Regions from separate parts of the Homo sapiens genome. Here regions 1 and 3 are each linked to region 2. Evidence: fine-mapped expression QTL. A gene starts in region 2. Each other region holds a variant in brackets. All regions are shown on one strand. Distances are between the middles of the regions. Region 1 holds the start of LOC124903371 (a long non-coding RNA gene). Region 2 holds the start of CLMN (calmin). Region 3 overlaps LOC107984710 (a long non-coding RNA gene).

What was found. PIP is the estimated chance that this variant, and not a neighbour inherited with it, causes the effect.
Region 1: its variant is the best candidate, but not a certain one, in a credible set for the expression of CLMN in whole blood (TOPMed, PIP 0.88).
Region 3: its variant is the best candidate, but not a certain one, in a credible set for the expression of CLMN in monocytes after interferon gamma (Fairfax 2014, PIP 0.72).

The regions. Positions count from the first base shown.
Region 1 is chr14:95,337,831-95,344,480 of GRCh38, reverse strand. It overlaps LOC124903371 (a long non-coding RNA gene), which reads left to right and starts at 4,793. Exons shown (of 2, transcript XR_007064319.1): 1 at 4,793-4,887; 2 at 5,388-6,650. The variant C/T (reference allele first, on the strand shown) is at 2,716.
Region 2 is chr14:95,317,786-95,322,785 of GRCh38, reverse strand. CLMN (calmin) reads left to right here and starts at 2,878. Exons shown (of 13, transcript NM_024734.4): 1 at 2,878-3,075. The coding sequence starts at 2,994. RefSeq lists a silencer at 2,898-3,157 and enhancers at 3,788-3,867, 3,888-4,007.
Region 3 is chr14:95,351,899-95,359,086 of GRCh38, reverse strand. All of the region lies in intron 2 of LOC107984710 (a long non-coding RNA gene), which reads right to left. Among named protein-coding and RNA genes, the nearest start is that of LINC02292, 26 kb to the right of the region's middle. The variant G/T (reference allele first, on the strand shown) is at 2,720.

The DNA of each region.
Region 1 (6,650 bases), 21 kb before region 2:
GACTGATCTTTAAAAACAACAAGTTATATCATTCCACTCCTTTGCTTAACACTCTCACGTGATGTTCTAGTTCATTGTTGTTTCTCTTTATCCCCTTCAATCTGGAATGGATCCTTATTCTTTTTTTTTTTTTTTTTTTTTTTGAGATGGAGTTTTGCTCTTGTTGCCCAGGCTGGAGTGCAATGGCACAGTCTTGGCTCACTGCAACCTCTGCCTCCTGGGTTCAAGTGATTCTCCTGCCTCAGCCTCCCGAGTAGCTGGGATTACAGGTGCCTGCCACCACACCCAGCCAATTTTTGTATTTTTAGTAAAGACAGGGTCTCGCCATGTTGGCCAGGCTGGTCTTGAACTCCTGACCTCGGGTGATACACCCGCCTCGGCCTCCCAAAGTGCTGGGATTACAGGCATGAGCCACCGCACCCGGCCCTGGATCCTTATTCTTATTCTTTCCCTATCTTTCATGTTCTCAATTATTCTGTAGGATTATCCTCAACCTGGGCCCATCTGATGTGTATACTAATAGGGTCTATGTATGTCCAACTTTAGTAGAAACCACAAGTTTTCCAAAGTGGTTGTATTTAATATGCTGTCCCACCAGCAATTGCTGCACATCCTCATAAACACTTGGTATTTTCTATGTTTTGTTTAATTTTAGTCATTTTGGTGGATGTGAAGTGAAATCTCATATAACTTAAATGTATACTTCTTTGATAACTAATGATGTTGCAGACATTTTTGTGTGCTTATTGGCCATATGAATGTCCCCTTTTGTGAAGATCCTATTCAATAATCTTACTCATTTAAAAAATTGGCTTGTCTTTTTCTTTAAAAATGTTTTATTAATATTATTTTAACTGACAAATATTAATTGTGTATACATATATACACATATATATCCATATATATACACATATATATACTTTTTTTTTTTTTGAGATGGAGTTTTGCTCTTGATGCCGAGGCTGGAGTGCAATGGCATGATTTCAGCTCACCGCAACCTTTGCCTCCTGGGTTCAAGCGATTCTCCTGCCTTAGCCTCCTGAGTAGCTGGGACTACAGGCATGTGCCACCACACCTGGCTAATTTTGTATTTTTAGTAGAGACAGGGTTTCTCCATGTTGGTCAGGCTGGTCTTGAACTCCTGACCTCAGGTGATCTGCCTACCTCGGCCTCCCAAAGTGCTGGGATTATAGGTGTGAGCCACCATGCCTGGCCTAATTGTATATTTTTTTATGGGGTGCAATGTATATGTATACAATGGGGAATACATAAATTAAGTTAATCAGCATATATAACACCTCACTTATTATTTTTTGTGGTGAGACATTGGACATTCACTTTCTAAGTTATTTTAAAATATACATTATTATTGGCTGTAGTCACTGTGCTATACAATAGATCTCAAATCTCATTCTATCTGAAACTTTGTGCCTTTGACCAACAACTCTCCATTCTTTTTCTTTTTGATCTGTATCAGTTCATTAAATATTCTCTATACAAGTCCTTAAATGTTGAAAATAAAACAATAAAGCTTCTAGAGGAAAACATAGGAGATTACATTTGTGATCTTTGTAAAGATAAAGATTCATTTAACTGAATACAAAAGGCATTAGCCATAAAGGAAAAAGTTGAGGAATTGAATTACATTAAAACCAAGAACTTCTGTCCACTAAATGACACTTTTTTTTTTTTTTTTGAGACAGGGTCTCACTCGGGCTACAGTGCAGTGGTGTGATCAGAGCTCAGTGCAGCCTCAAACTCCCAACTTCAAGTGATCCCTCACACCTCAGCTTCCCAAGTAGCTGGGACTATAAGTGCATAGCACCACACCTAGTTAATTTTCAACTTTTTTTGTAGAGACAGGGTCTTGCTATGCTGCCAGGGCTGGTCTCGAACTCCTGGCCTCAAGCAATCCTCCTGCCTCAGCCTCCCAAAGTGCTGGGATTACAGGTGTGAGCCACCACGCCCAGTCTTCACTGAGTGACACTTTTAAGAGTCAAAAGGCAAGCCATACAGTAGGAGAAGACACTTGTTTTATACCTTTATACATCTGTATAACACATAGTAATATATATTGTTATATATTATGTAATATATTAATATACTGTTTTCTATATTAACATATATAATGACATTTATTGGCCATATTTACTAAAGCTGACCATACATATACCCTATTAACAGGTACATACACACTCCTCCGTATATACCAAACAGAAATGTTTATATCTGTGCAGCAGAAAACACAAACAAAATATTCTTAGCAGGATTATTCTTCATAGCCCAAAACTGGCAACTACTCAAATGTCCATCAACAATAGAAAAGATCAATAAATTGAGGTATAGTCATATGATGAATACCATACAGTGATAGGGGAGGATATAACTGCTCCAGGTGAGGACATAGATGAATCTCACAGACATAAAGCTGATCAAAAGAAAACAGGCACAAAGGAATATGTACAGTTTAATTCCATTTATATAAAGCTAAAAAAAGTCAAAACTAACTTTTCACTTTCTAAAAACTTATCATCGAACTGTATATTTAACTAATATTTGTGTGCTTTATAGTATGTGATATATGCCAATTAAAATTAAAGGAAAAAAACCAGCCTCCAGTGGCTTCCCATTACACTTAGAATAAGTCCAACTTCTTATCAAGGACATTTATGAAGTGGCTGCCATCCAGGTCCTGACCTCATCTTTTCCCCTCTC[C/T]GCCTCATTCACTCCACATTGGCCATCCCGACCTTGTTGCTGATGCTTCAGCACACAAAGCTAGTTCCCACTTGTGGCAGACAGCACTGATGTTCCCAATTCTTCACCCATCTCCCTGTCCATGCCCTCTGCCATTTGCCATTCCTACTACTAGAGGTACAGTATACTTCTCAGCTCCATGGATGTTAAGCTTGGCGTTGTGCTATGTCTTGGTCAGTAAAATATGAGTAGACTCACGGTGTGTCAGTTCCAAGTGAGGCCCTAAAGTGAATCACTTCTTTCTGTTTGTCCTATCCCTCTGCTGCCACCAACCTGAGAACATGCCCTCCCTAGCCTGCTGATGCAAAGAGGATGAGAGACACAGATATGCAGCTTGAAGTCAAGCCCAGCTGAGCCCATCCTACATCAGCCGCTCACTAGTGGACCTGCAGAAGCATCATCAAGAACAAATAATTATTGTTTTCAGCCACTGAGTCATAGGATGTGTATTATGCAGCATCATTGTAGCAATAGCTGACTAATACACCACCTCAGTGTCTTTACATTTGCTGTTCCTCACATAGGTAACATCCTCATTCAAGTCCTTGTTCAAATGTCACTTCTTCAGAGAGCCCCTTCCTAACCACTCTATCTCAAACAGCACCATCTCTTCCCTTCATTTCTCTCCATCCTCCTGCCCTGCCTTACATGTCTTCATAGCACTTACTGCTACCTGACATTTTATTTGCTTATTCAGCCTCCATAAGAGAATGTAAGCTCCATGAGGGGAGGCACCTGTTCATTTCCACATCCCTGGTGCTAGCACCATGTCTGGCACTTATCAGGAGCTCAATAAATATTTGTTGATTGAACAAACCAATCTCTGCCCTCTCCCTCATCCCCGCTCACAATGTTTCCAGCATATAGAGAAACTGACTCAAAAATCACATCCTGCTGCTGTTTACCAAGGTGGGGCTGGTGAATGACAGGTCACTAGCAAAGTGACCCATCATTAAGTTGGTGGAAGGAAATAAAACCAAAGCAAGGAATCCACAAAATCTACAATCTTTCATACCAGCCCTTGGGAAAACCATTTCATCATGATAATAATTGGGTGTGAGCTAGTGTGGTCCATAAAAGCTCACTTTCTCAGTGTGTCTCTTCCTGGAGTTCTCTCCGGGGCCTTGCTGTGAGAGAACACGCCCCAGGCAGGAAACAGACTGGCCGGATCAGCATGGCATTGTGCCTTTGTCCGGCTCCGCCCACACACCTAATCTTTCGGGAGTCAAGGCACAGCCCACAAAGAGAGTTGGGCACCATCTGTGTGTTGGCCTCTGTGCTGGGACCTTTGTGAGCTTTATGACACCAATCCTCCCAAGATCTTGCCAGGTAAACATCATCAGGGCAGTTTAGGAACATGCCCAAGGACACTGGCAGAGCTGGAATTTGAGTCCCCGTCCTTCTGATGCCAAAGCCCATGTGGTTTCCACCCCCTGCACAGGAGGGGAGGAGGGCGAAGGCTCAGAGCTGATGAGGCTCAGGGCCAGAACTTTGATTCTCCCCACATTTTTCTGCAGCAGGAATTTGACTTTATGGAAGCTTCACATTGAACCTGACCTGCTCTCTGTGAATTATTTTCTAGGTCTTCGATGAATAAACAGGCAATTCTCCGTATCCATATATCTTATGTACCACACAAATATATATACCTACTATGTACCCATAAATATTAAAAAACAAAAAAACTAAAAGACCCAGATAATTCTCACTTTTTGGCTTCAGATCCTGGTCCTCTGTTGAAATGCTTATAAATAAAGGAGAAAGAATAGCACCTACATACACCTATAAATAAAGGAAGACATAGTTATAAAGATATATAGTTATAAAAAAGGAAATGGCCATAGAACTATTTAGAGGGATCTACATAGAAGGAAGAGAGACTAAAAATCAACTTGACTTCTATGAGCAAATAGCAGAGCAGTTTGCAGAGTTATGTATACAGAAGCCTCTGGCAAGAGGACAAGAGAAGTACAAAAAGTTTCTCATTAAATAACTTTTCAAACGGCAGTGCAAAGGTCTCTGGGCGTGTGCCCAGCGCACCTCAACCTGGAAGGCATTGCAGTGGGTGCAAGGCAGGACAAGCCCACGGAGCAAGCACTTCGGGTCGGCACTCACCTGCCCAGGAACTGAGAGGTAGGTCATGGATCAGCCTAGAAAGAAAGATCCACGTGTGACTTCCCCGTGGCTCTGCAAGTCTCCCAGGCTGTAGTGCAGTATAGTGGCTAAGAACATGGCACTTTGGTGACAGACAGACCTGATTCCTGTCTTGGCTCTGCCCTTCACTGGCGGTGGCACTGTGAGCAGGTGGCTTCACCACCCAGCCTGTAAAGTGGTGACAGTAGTACCTACCTTGCAGGACTACATGAAAAAGAAGTGAGATCATCCATGTAGCACGCATGGGACCAGATCCCAGAAAGTGGAGGAGGAGTGAAGCTCAACTCTGCTGGTCTGGACTTTTTGCAGTTGAAACGGGGCCCTTCCTTAGTTCTGGCTAACATTAAAAATGATCTGGCCAGGTGCTGTGGCTCATGCCTATAATCCCAGAACTTTGGGAGGCCAAGGCAGGCAGATCACCTGAGGTCAGGAGTTCGAGACCAGCCTAGCTAACATGGTGAAACCTTTTTCTACTAAAGATACAAAAAATTAGCCGGACGTCCTGGCGTGTGCCTGTAATCCCAGCTACTCAGAAGGCTAAGGCAAGAGAATCGCTTGAACCTGGGAGGCGGAGGTTGCAGTGAGCCAAGATAGCGCCATGGCACTCCAGCTTGGGCAAGAAGAGAAAAACTCCATCTCCAAAAAAAAAAAAAAGAAAAGAAAAGAAAAAAAAAAGATCTGCATCCTTTGAGCTCACACCAATGGATGAGAAAGAAGCAGGTGAAGGAATTTATTGTTATATTATATTAAATAAATAATAATAGTAACAGCCCTTATGCCACTCTCAAGGAGCATTCTCGTGTGCATAGTTGCTTCTGTTGAGCCCGCTGGAATATCTGCTTCTGCAATGAGGATGTTGGGCCCTGGGCAACCTGAGAACCTACCCAGTGCTGGCACACAGGAGCACAGAGAGAGCTGGGACAGACTGTCTGGTGGAATCAGCCCTCGGTGGACACCCTCGCCAGAGTGCAGCGTTACAGGCACTATTATCTGCATGTCTCTAGACAACATAATAGACAGACTCAGGGTTCAAAGCTTAGAACCAATGATGCCTCCTTCTGGAAGCCCTCTCCTTCCAATGGTTGGAATGAGTCCCCTCTGCCCTGTGTTTCCATGACCATGCTATGGCCTTTATCATTCCATTCACCATAGCAGTCCCCTTTCATGAATGACAGGCACTATGTCAGTGGCCTCAGTGAATCTCCCCATGGGAGAGATGAGGGGCCACAAGAGGGCTGGGGCAGAGAAGCATCATCACCTTAGTGGTTAACAGGATGCAGGGGAGCAGGGATGGATGTAGGCAGACAGGTCAGGAAGCCATGGCAGTGATGCCAGTGAGAGCTGATGGTGGCAGTGAAGGCAGGAAGAACTAGTTGGATTATAGATTTTTTTTGAGGTTAAACTGACAAGATGTCCTTGTGGATTGAAGGTAAAATACCTGAGAAATGAAGGAGATGAGAATGACCCCACGGTTTTTAGCCAGAGTAACTGCAAAGTTAGAGAACCCAAATACAAAGATCAGGAAAATTGTGGAAGAGCTGGTTTTGGAGAAAAAATAAGGAGGCCAGTTTGGGACGAGTTGAATTTGAGACACCTGCTAGATATCACACCTGCAGTTGGCTATGGGAAGATGTAAAGGTGGGAGTTATCAGTGTATAGGTGGGGAAATAAAGCTCCGAGCTTAGATGAGATAACCAAGGAGTAAGTGTAACTGATAAAAGAAGAGGACCAAGGAACTGACC
Region 2 (5,000 bases):
CTCCCAGCCAGAACTCCAGATCCAGGAGGCTGCACACACCCAGAGGAAGGGACATATCATAGATTGGTATGTACCTGGTTCCCAAAAGCACGTGCTTTGCCTATCGCACATATGCAAACTTTTTTAAAATCACCTTTCCAGGAGCGTACTGGGGCCTTGGACATGAAGGTCAACTGTTTTTTTCACTTTGGTCCCCTGGTTTCTGGGTTCAGGCCTATAGTGAGAGTCATTCATTCATCCATCCATTTAATTTCGACACCTCTCCCTGTGCCAGACACAGAGCAGCCCTTGTTTTCACGTACTTCACAATTTATTGGGGAAAACTGTCAAGTAAACATAATTGTAGTACGATGCAATCAGGAAACAGAATTGCAGAGTTCATGGAATATTATGTGATTGTACTTAATATTACGGGAATTGTACAAGACAGGCACCCAGCTGAGCCTAGTGGTGTTGGAGAAGTCTCTGAGGTGCACATGATTAAGCAGGAGTAAGCTAGGTAAAGGTGAAGTGCAGGGAGCAGGGGAAGGGCGTTTCAAAGGGGACAAATGAGCAAAGGTCTGGAAGTGACTGGATGTGGCCAGGACCTGAGGCAGCTCAGCACTGCTGGGTCAAAAAGTGTAGAGCCAGGATTGAGGGGCACAGATCAATCACAGATGACTTAGTGTGCCCCACAGAGGAGCCCAGAGACACTCTAGGAAACAGGGGTGATATTGACACATGAGTTCAATGAATATTCAAGTACCTTTTAGAGGCCAGCCTCATGCTCAATACTGGCTTCTATTCCTTTTTGAAAAACACCTAAAATTCTTTCCACCTTACTGAAAAGCAAAGAAGTTCTTTAGGCTGAGAGTCGTCCAACAACTGGTATACAGTTGGTGCTCAATCGATGGTGATCATAGTCCCTCCCTGCCAGGGAGCTGTTGCTGACTGGGTAGTGTTCCCCAAATGATGTGGCTGTCCATTCCCAGGATCAGACATCTTTGCATCATGAAAAATGGCCCAACCCTGTAGCTAACATCCACAGGGCACATTGCTTAAAGACAGATTCCCTGCAACCTCTCTCATGATGGAGAAGAAGGCTGATTCTCTTAGCTCTCTGCTTTGTAAAGAAAATGGTTTTCAGCACAACTTCACCCCACAGCAATTATGGAAAATAAATTGAAGTGTAAGAACAGGGAGATGGCTAGCAGATGGGGCAAAATTAGCCTGGCTGCTACTACCACCCTGGCTCCACAGGACGCAGAAAGAGATCCTGCTCCTTGGAGTGTGAAATGACCACAAGATTAAGAATCAAGGCAGCAGCAAGGAAGCTCCTGCCTCAAGCCCAAGCACCAAGGAGCCCCTAATGGGGCCTCCACTTCTGTCTCCACTGATCCCACCTTTCCCCGCCCAAACTGCTGTCCCTGTGGGGGTTCCTCTCCTCCTTCTGGGCTCAGCTCCAAGGTCAGTCTTTAGAGACCTCTGCTGCCCTCCACCCGCATTCACAGTTCCTTAACCCAAATTGACTTTCTCCTTTCTGGAGTCCACTTTAGAAATCTCCTTTCCTTGTTTAAGGGCCACACGATAGCCCCTGCCCCAATGGATGACTGGAGGGTAGACTCACCCTCCTTCAGGGCCCTGCCTCAAGGGCACAGGTCTGTCCTTCGGGGGACCTCCATAGTTACTGGGTAATTAGTGAGCAGCCGGGTTTCCGGGATTCATTGCTGTGAACAGAGCAGCGATGCACACAGGCCCATGTGTTTAAATGCCCAGTGAGCCCTGTCCATTTTTTTCCCCCTCTTGGAACACTGAATATTTAAAGCCATTTTCTTTGTGGCCTTAGTTGTCACAGAAAGGGCCCAAGCACTGAGCTGGGAGCAGGGGGCTGGGACTTCCTGCTCCTAAGTCATTCCTCAACCTTGGGCAAATTCGGTAACTGTAGGGTCTCACTTTTAAGGAGTGTAAACCACATGGTGGGCACCAAACAGGATAAGATCCTGGAATTCTCTAGAGTTCAACAGTGGAGGTGGGGAGGGAGGGGACCGGAAGGCCTGTCCTGGCATTTTCAGTAGTCTCCACAGGAAGTTCTGTCCTGGCATTTTCACTAATTTCCAGTGACCCCACAGAGGGTCACTTGGAGACTCAGTGGCCAGAGACCCCACAGCGTACCCCAGCTCCTAGGAGTTGGCCTGCTTCTTGTTCCTTCCTAGAAGCTGGAGTCACATTACTGGACCGGAAAAGGCTCCTAGTATCTAAACCAACGAAGAAGGCCCTTCTTTCACAGCCCCCCCGCACTTTGGAGACTCCCACAACTTTACCTCCACACTAGTTTGCCCCCCGACCCAGGCCCTCGACACTCCCCACGCAGGGCTCCCAGGATTCGGGGATGGGCAGGGCTCGGGTCCTGGTCCCTCCAAGTGGGGGCTGCCTCTCCAGAGTGGACAGGGGACCCGCGGAGGGGGTGTCTTATCCCGGACGGGAGGGAGACGCTGCCTCCTGGACCAGGTACTGGGACCCACGGGCCCACCCCCAGTTGCGTCACCCGGCCCACCGCCCCCTGAGACATCACAATCTGGGGGCCGGGACCCGCGCCTCATCACAGCCGGTTTGTAACCAAACAATCCAACCTACAAACACCCCGGAAAGAAAAAAAACACAAGCTGGCCTGACCCAGCCTCCCGCCCCTGCCCCGCCCCGCCCCGCCCCTCGCCCCTCGCCCCTCGCTCCTCAGGGCCCCCGCCCCCGCACGGGGGAGTGAGAGCGAGCCCGCCGCCCCGCACCCGCCGCCCCGCGCTCGCTCGCGCCAGCCCGCGGCGGGGGCGGCCCCGACCGCGCCGCCCGCCCCTCCCCGCCCCGCCCCGCCCCGCCCGCGCCCGCGCCCCGCCCGCGCCCGCCGCGACTCCAGCTCCGCGGCGCCCTCGCCGGGTGCGTGCCGCTCGCGCGCCCGCCAGCCAGGCTCTCCGCGCCCGCCGCCCGCGCCGCGCTGGCCCGGGCTCTCCCGCCCGCGCTTCATGGCTGCACACGAGTGGGACTGGTTCCAACGCGAGGAGCTCATCGGGCAGATTAGCGACATCCGAGTGCAGAACCTGCAAGGTAACGCAGCCCAGGCTCGCCCCGGGATGGCTGGGCGCTCGGGGGGCCCGGGGCGCCGCTCCGACACTTGGCAACTCCCCCGCGCCGCCCCCGCTCGCCGGCCGCTCGTTGTTCCTGTCACTTGCCTCGAGGTGGGAGGCTGGGGTTGGATACCCGCCCCCAAGCCCCAGGGCGGCCAGCCGCGGCCAGGTTTACAGTTGCCCAGGGGGTGGGGCGCCACACGTGTGTGTGTTGTGGGGCGAGGGCTCGCATTTTCATTAGGGGGACGTCACCACCCCCTCCAGTCACCGCTGCGAGTTTGGAGAAGTTTGTACGTGGGCTCTTGGGGGCGGTGGCCCAGGTTAGGGAGGGGAGGAGACAGTGCGACTCTGTGTGTGTGTGTGTGTGTGTGTGTGTGTGTGTGTGTGAGTTCGCGCACTTCCTAAGTACCTTCGAGGCAAGGGGAATTGAATGGTGGGCGGCGCTTCAGGGGGTGAGTTGGGGAAAGCGGGGCCAGGGGTGCGGATCGGATCGGTGGGGTCAGGCAAGCACCCAACTCCAGCGGCCACTTTGCTTAGGGAGCTGCCCCTCCCCTGCAGGATCAGGACTCTAACTGGGGAGAGGGCGAGAGCCCCACCCTTCCCCCACGCTGGCCCCCAACTCCGACCCTGCCTGGGCACAGGACACTGGGACCAAGGCTTCTACCTGGGAGGTAGCTGAGAAGAGGTGAAAGAGAAACTCCAGTGGTGGAGAGCGGCTGGGTATGGCGGTGCCACACATGAAGTGTGTTTCTCTTTCAAAAGAATTTATTCAATGTGGAAACTTAGAAAGCACAAAAATATTTGAAGGAAAAAAGTCACCCATAATTTCCCCTCCACAACCTATCCACCCAACAGACAGGTGTTCTTCATGGAACTGTATCTCCAGCTTCTTTTTTTTCATATATGGGCTTTGCAGAACTAGACAGAACACCACTTCCGGCCCTTCTTCACCCACATTGACCTGTGCAGGTGAAGTTTCTGTAGCTGCTTCCCCTGCTGGCTTGGGTTTCTAGAGGGTTCAAGGTTAGGAGTGGCTAGGAGCGAGCTGGGAGGCCTGGGCAGAGAGGCGATGGGGCTGTGGGTGCCCTCCCCCAGCCAGGGCAGCGACTTTACTGTTATAGGGTAGGGAGCCCCAGCGCTGGGGGATGGCCGAGCAGTCAAGTTTAAACATTACACCTGATTGAATGTTTCCTGGGAGCCCAGGGTCTGCCCCACCCCTAGGTTGGGCAAGGACAGTGCCGGCAGAGGTGACCTCAAAAGGACTGGGGAGCCTCCTGGGGTGGACACTGGAAACTGAGTTTGCTCTGGGCCGCTCTGATCTCTTCTGGCTGTGATTTGTGTTAAAGGAGGAGGCTTGGGCTGGGATGTTGAAAGTGATCTCTTTTGATAATAAGCCAAGTGCCTGGATCCTGTTGCCTGAGAAGAACTGACATCCTGTTTGGGGGTGGGCATTAGTGTCTTCTGCTGGACTGTGAGGGTGTGAGTGTGTGTACCTGTCTGTCTTAGGCAACCATTGAGTGTTTAATAAGCACATACTAACCAATGCTTCGTGCAACAAGTTCCTGCATTCCTCTAGGATTAGCTCCTGGTTTAGAGAAGATTGATTGTTGTGAAGAGATGCCCCGCAATATGAACATTAGGTTACAACCAGAACGGTGGGAGAAGGCTTTACAGAATAGGGACAATTTGAGATGGGTCCTGGAGGTTGGGTAGGAGTTCACTGAGTAGGCTCCTCTCCCTCAGCTCCCAGTGAACTGTCCTCACTTTTAGGCAAACATCAGTTACAATTTAAGCATCAACAGGCTTTGCCATTAAAAAAATAAATTTTTAAATGTATGTATATGTTTAAATGTGCACTTATTAAGTTCAACAAAACTTTATGTATGAGTACATCTATGTAACAAC
Region 3 (7,188 bases), 35 kb before region 2:
ATGGTGGCGCATGACTGTAATCCCAGCTACTTGGGAGGCTAAGGCACAAGTATCGCTTGAACCTGGGAGGTGGAGGTTTCAGTGAACCAAGATCATGCTACTGCACTCCAGCATGGGTGACAGAGCGAGACTGTCCCAAAAAAAAAAAAAAAAAAAAAAAAAAAAGGAAAGGAGAAAAAGAAAAAAAGCCCACTCAGGGATTGGGGCCTGCAGAAGATCTGGACTCAAATTTTATAGCAAGTGGCTTAAATAAGAAATGGAATTTGAGCTAATTTCCTCACTTACAAGGCTGCCTGCCTGCCTTACAGGGATTTGGGGAGAGTAATGTATAGAAAGTGCCTTCCTCAATGGAGCCGGCATCACCATAATCTGCTATGTGTGCCCTGGTCTTTACAGTTAACAAATCTCCTTCACTTGCAAAATTTCATTTTGTTTTCACCATAATCCCAGGAGTTCAGCAGGACTGCTATGTTTAATAGTCACCTTTACAGAGCAGGAAATTGAGGGTCAGAGAGATGAAGCAACTTACCAAGTTCACACAGCAACTCAGCGTTAGAACTGAGACGAAAACACAGAGTTTGAATCTAAAGCTTTGAGGGTTGGTCTGATTCTGTTGACAAAGCTTCATGACAATGCCAGAAGACTCTGGGGACTGGTATTTCCAAAGTAATTAGTCACATCTAACATAGGAGAGACTTAGGATCAAGCACCAAAGATCTGCCACCTATTTTGGGCATGTGAGTAGCCCAAGGAATGTTCTAGAAGGAATACCTGGTGAGAGAAATCATGTTTCCCAAAGATGGCCACAACAGTAGCTCCCATCCCACATGCTGTACCTGTAGTAGGACTGTCTCATTCTCTCATTAGGATGTGGGGTCTAATTTGCCTCCCCTGGAATCTGGGCTGGCCTTACAGACTTGCTTGACAAATATAAAGTGGTCATTAGTGGTATTCTGGGACTTCTAGGGCTAGGTCATAAGAAGCCTTGCAGTGTCCACTGGGGTCTCTGGGGTTGATCTTGGAGCACTCTGTGTTGTAAAATTCTTTACACAGAGAGGCCATATATGGATGTTCCCAGGGACAGCCTTAGCCATGCTCCCAGTTGACGACCAGCAGGTCATCATGCTGTGTGAGCCATCTTGGACGTCCTGCAACGTCAAGCCCTCAGATAATTCCAACCCCAGCTGAATCCAACTACAAACAGCATAAGAGAACCTACGCAAGAACTGGCTGAGTCCAGTCAAATCCCAGAACCACAGGAGACAATAATGCATCCATATTTTAAGCCATACAGCTGTGGATGGTATATTATAAAGCAATGAATAACTGGAATACCTGGAGTGGTTTACAGGGCTCTTCATTTAAAGAGAAACTGAGGCTAAGAAATTAATCAAGGCCCTTCCTCTGGGCTCTCAGAACGCTCAGTGTAATTGCTATAAGGGTATCTGAGCCCAAATCATTGGTTTACTTGTCTGTCCTACGAGACTGTGAGCTCTTGGGGGATAGAGAATATATTAGGGCTCTGGAGTTGCTAGTAACGGAAATAAAACTGGCTTACTTAAGCAAAGCAAAATTGATTGGGAGGATTTGGGAGAGCTCAAAGAATTAGAATAAAAACCAGACTGGGTTCAGAGAACAGCAGTGATCCAGGGCAGGGGCACATGGAGAGTCTCTGGGGGTGCCAGGGCTATACATGAAGAGTAATCCTTTGTCCCTGTCATGTTATGCTGCTCAAGATTCCAATTCCAGGGGGAATACTCTTGACTGGCCTGCACTGGGCCACAGAAGGGCAGGCCCCACTTGGATGTGGGCCCCACTCAGGCTCTGTCCATTGGATGGGCTGTCCCCTAAACAAATTCAGGATGTTGATGCCAGAAGAATGGGGAGTGGGTATTGAAGAGGCAAAGTTGGGCCATCACATTTGCCCCAGCAACCCCAGTACCCAGCTCAGTGTCTGGCACATAATAGGTGCTCAAGAAATATTATTTTGATGTGTGAACAAATAAACAATCTAATGAATAAATGTGCATGAATGAATGAAGCAACACATGAACAAGTGCATAGTTAGACAATGCGTGGGCCATGTGCAGGCCTTTGAAGACACCTGCTAGATATTACAGCACTTTAACTCCCCTCCACCAAGCCAGGCATTTTTTTCTCAAGAGAGTTTCTGATACCTGGATTCTAGAATGTATACAATTTTAATCCCCTAATCCTGTCAGTTTAAGAACATTATACACTTTGAACAGGGCCTGTGATAATTCCTGAAAACACCCCAGGAGCGGTGACTCCCTAGCCCTGCTTGATTTTAAATTCAGTTTTCAGGGGAGGGCTGGTGGAGGAGATAGATGTGAGGGAGGCTTGTCTCTGAGGCAAGAGCTGGGAGGTCTGGCATTTCCTTTTATGGGTCCACAGCTGTTCAGCAGAAGGCAGCTGGACGAGGCTTGGTCTGGTGGCCGCCACACTACACCCAAGGCAGGTAGATGCGTCATCTGCACATCTGCCCAAAACCTGCACGTAAAGGACGACAGACCATGTTGTCTCACGCCTTACACAGACTCACTAAGGGTAAAAGGTCAGACTTCACCAACTCCTGAAAACGTCGCCACTTCTATTTTTGGTACACTTTCAAGGCACTCATCCTAGGTGGATAAGCTTTGGGGAGACAGGCCAGAACGAGGTCCCGGGTCAGGAGCCCAGCTGGTTGGGCCCAGTTGCC[G/T]GTGTGAGGCCTTCCAATTTGTTCTGAGACCCCCATCCCATGAACCAAATCCAAATAAAGTGACATTCCCAGCCTGCTGGTCCTGTCCTGGTGACTGGGGAGAGAATGGGTTCTCGCTCCGGCCAGGACTATAGAATTTAATGTTAATGATGGCCAATAGTGCCCCCTGGGATGGGCAATGGACTTTATTGGCCCCAGACATAGTCATTCTGGTGGGGGACTCAGGACCAGAGCTGATTCAGCCTAACGGTGGCAGAGGGGGGTGGCCAAGGAACTGGAAAGTAGTGAATAGAATCTTTGATGCCTTTACAATTTGTTAGCACACGCACAAAGAAAACTTAAAAAGCAAATTGGCTCAAATATATATTAATACCTCGACACACCCTGATTTACTCATCTGGAGGTAACTTACCAGTCAACAGATATTCTCCAGGACAGGAGGGAAAGGGTTAAGGAAGGAAAGGTCATTTGTGCTGAGCACCAGGGGGTGCCAGGGGTGATGTTAGGAACTTTCAATATATTATGTCCTTTAGGCCCTACAGCAGTCTGGAGATTCAATGCAACCTCATTTCACAGGTAAGGAAACTGAGTCCACAGAGGTGAGGTACATTGCCCAAGGTCATGATACTCCTAAGTGGCAAACCTAGGATTTGAACCTCGGTCAAGTCAGACTCTGTGGCCCATCTCCATTTCATTACATCATACCATCTCCTGGGAAGTAAACAAAAGAGGTGTTTGAATGGAAACGCACAGACCTCATTCACCAGAGAGTCTGCCAGAGCCACTGATTCTGGCTGTTATACAATTCTCACAAGTATGATTATTCGATCTCCTGGCTCACAGACAATGGGAAACATCAAATAAGTAGGAGAGAAGGCTACAGAAGGAAGCATACAGTGTGACAAGTAGCTATGGAAGCCAGGGTTCCAGGTACAGTAAATGGTGGGGTGGCTTGAATCTGACCAAGCCTCCTGATTGTAACCATTAAAATCTCTGAATAGCAAATTTTTAAAAAACCATTTGAAGGCACTGGAATGCAATTCAGAACTGGTGGGAATACAACTCTTGGGAAAAAAAGAAAGCATATAATTTTATGATTTTCTCAAAGAAAAAGCTTTTGTTTCATTCTCTCCTTTTTAATTTTTTATTTGTATATTTTTGGGGGGTACAAGTGCAGGTTTCTTCCATGCATATATTGCATAGTGGTAAAGTCTGGGCTTTTCCTATACACATCATCTGAAGAGTGAACATTGTATCCAATAGGGAATTTTCTATCCCTCACCCCCATCCCCACCCTCCCATGTTTCATAATCTCCAATGTCTACTATTCCACTCTGCATGCCCCTGTGTACCCATCATTTAGCACCCACTTATAAGTGAGAACATGCAGTATTTGACTTTGTGTTTCTGTCTCCTCTTGGCTTTTCAATGTCACTGATACCTAATTTTACTTTATTATTTCCTTTCTTCTTTTTACTTTGGACTTGATTTGCTCTCTCTTTTCTTGTTTCCTAAGGTAAAAGCCTAGGTCATTGCTTCGTGACCTTTCCTCTTTTTTTTTTTTTTTGAGACGGAGTCTGTCTCTCTCACCCAGGCTGGAGTGCAGTGGTGCCATCTCGGCTCACCGCAAGCTCTGCCTCCCAGGTTCACACCATTCTCCTGCCTCAGTCTCCCAAGTAGCTGGGACTACAGGTGCCCGCCACCACACCTGGCTAATTTTTTTGTATTTTTAGTGGAGACAGGGTTTCACTGTGTTAGCCAGAATGGTCTCAATCTCCTGACCTCGTGATCTGCCCACCTTGGCCTCCCAAATTGCTGGGATTACAGGCATGAGCCACCAAGCCTGGCCCTTTCCTCTTTTTTAATGGCAATTCATGCTATGAATTTTCCTCTGAGCACCACTTTAGCTGCATCTTGCAAGTACTGATAATGTCAGTTTTTATTTTCATTCACTTTGAGTTACTTTTGATTTCTTCTTTTTTTAATTTTTTTTATTATACTTTAAGTTCTAGGGTACATGTGCACAATGTGCAGGTTTGTTACATATGTATATATGTGCCATGTTGGTGTGCTACACCCATTAACTTGTCATTTACATTAGGTATATCTCCTAATGCTATCGCTCCCCTCTCCCCCCACCCCAATTTTTAAATTTTGTGGGTACATAGTAGGTGTATATATTTATGGGGTACATGAGATGTTTTGATATGGGCAACTTTTGATTTTTGCTTTGGCCCATGCATTACTTAGATGTATATTATTTTGTTTCTAATATTATGTCATTTTCCAGATGTCTTTTGGGTATTGATGTCTAATTTGTGAGCACAGAGCAAATTTTGTAAAGTGGGGGTTCATTTACATTTATCAAGACTTGTTCTGTAGCCCAGAATATGGCCTACTTTGGTACATATTCCATGTGCGTTGGAGAGGAGTGTGTATTCTGTTGTCCTTGGGTGAAGTGTTTTATAAATATCAGCTAAGTCACGCTGGTTGATAGCGTGCCATCTGTTGTTTCCTTTTCCTCTTTTTCTGCCGTCTTTTAGGTTGAGCTTTTTTTTTTTTTTTAATGGAGTTTCGCTCTTGTTGCCCGGGCTGGAGTATAGCGGTGTGATCTCAGCTTCGCTGCAACCTCCACCTCCTGGGTCCAAGTGATTCTCCTGCCTCAGCGTCCCAAGTAGCCAGGACTACAGGTGCCTGCCACCACGCCCAGCTAATTTTTGTATTTTTGGTAGAGATGGGGTTTCACCATGTTGGCCAGGCTGGTCTTGAACCCCTAACCTCAGGTGACCCTCTCATCTCAGCCTCCCAAAGTGCTGGGATTACAGGTGTAAGCCACTGTGTCCGGCTGAGAATTCTTTTATGATCCTATTTTATCTCTTGTGGGCTTCTTGGCTACCCCTCTCTGTTTTCTTTTAGTGGTTGCTTTAGGGTTATAGTACACATTTTTCCCTTATTACAATCTACCTTCAAGTGATATTATAACACGACATGTGCTATATGAAAACTTTATAACAGTATACTTCCATTTCTCCTCTCCTGGCCATTGTTCTAATTTGTCATATATTTTTACTTCTATGTATGTTATAAACTCCACCTTACAATATGTTAGTTGATAGTAGTTTTACTTTTAATAATTACCTTTTAAAGGATTTATTTATTTATTTATTTATTTATTTATTTATTTTACAGAGAGGGTCTTGATCTGTCACCCAGGCCATCTTCCCACTTCAGCCTCCCAAATATCTAGAACTAGAGGTGTGCACCACCACACCTGGCTAACTTTTTTTATTTGTGTTTATTTTTGTAGAGACAAGGTCTTGCTATGTTGCCCAGGCTGGTCTCAAACTCCTGGCCTGAAGCAATCCTCCTGCCTCAGCCTCCCAAAGCACTGGGATTACAGGCATGGACAACATTGCCAAGCCGTTAAAGGGATTTTCTAAAAGAAATAATATATTTTATATTTACCAACATACGGTATTTATCACTTCTAAAGCTCTTCACTATTTTAAACAGACAGACCATACCAAGTATTTCTAAGGATGGAGAGCAATGTAGGGTGTCCAGCACTGCTGGTGGGCATGTAAAATGGAACAGCCACGTTGGAAGCACAGTTTGGTGGTTTTTATAAAAGCTAAATACATACCTACATATGATTCAGCCATTCCATCCCTACATATTTACACAAAAGAAATGCAAGCACGGCTGGGCATGGTGGCTCATGCCTGTATTCCCGACACTTTGGGAGGCTGAGGCGGGCAGATCACTTGAGGTCAGGAGTTCAAGACTAGCCTGGCCAACATGGTGAAACCCTGTGTCTACTAAAAATATGAAAACTAGCTGGGCGTGGTGGTGGCACCTGTAGTCCCAGCTACTTGGGAGAGTGAGACAGGAGAGTCGCTTGAACCCAGAAGGCAGAGGTTACACTGAGCCAAAATCCCGCCACTGCCCTCCAGCCTGGGTGAAGGTGAGACTGTGTCTCAAAAAATAAAAAAAGAAGGAAAGAAAGAAAGAAAGAAAGAAATGCCAGCATATTTCCACACAAGGATCATTACATGAATGCTTATAACAGTTTTATTTTTAATAGCTAAAAACGAGAAAAAGCCCAGGGGCCCATCAGCAGATGAGCAGATCAACAAACGGTGGTGCATCTATATAACAATAAAAACAGGCACGTAGTCAAGCAGGGATGCCTGTGGCACCCCGCAACAACATGGATGAAGTGCGTAGCTATCATGCTGGGAGGAAGAGCCAGAAAAAGAAAAGATGCATGAAATTCCAGAAAATGCAAACCAATCAGAAAGCAGAGAGAGAGGAATGGCTTTCAAAGTAGCCCAAGGAAGCTTTTGGGGATGGTGCCCTTTGTATAGTCATAAACCTATGTCAAAACTCCTCCAGGTTTACATTTTAAATATGTGTGATTTATTGTATGGCAATTATACATCAATAAATCTGTAAAATCTATTGAATGG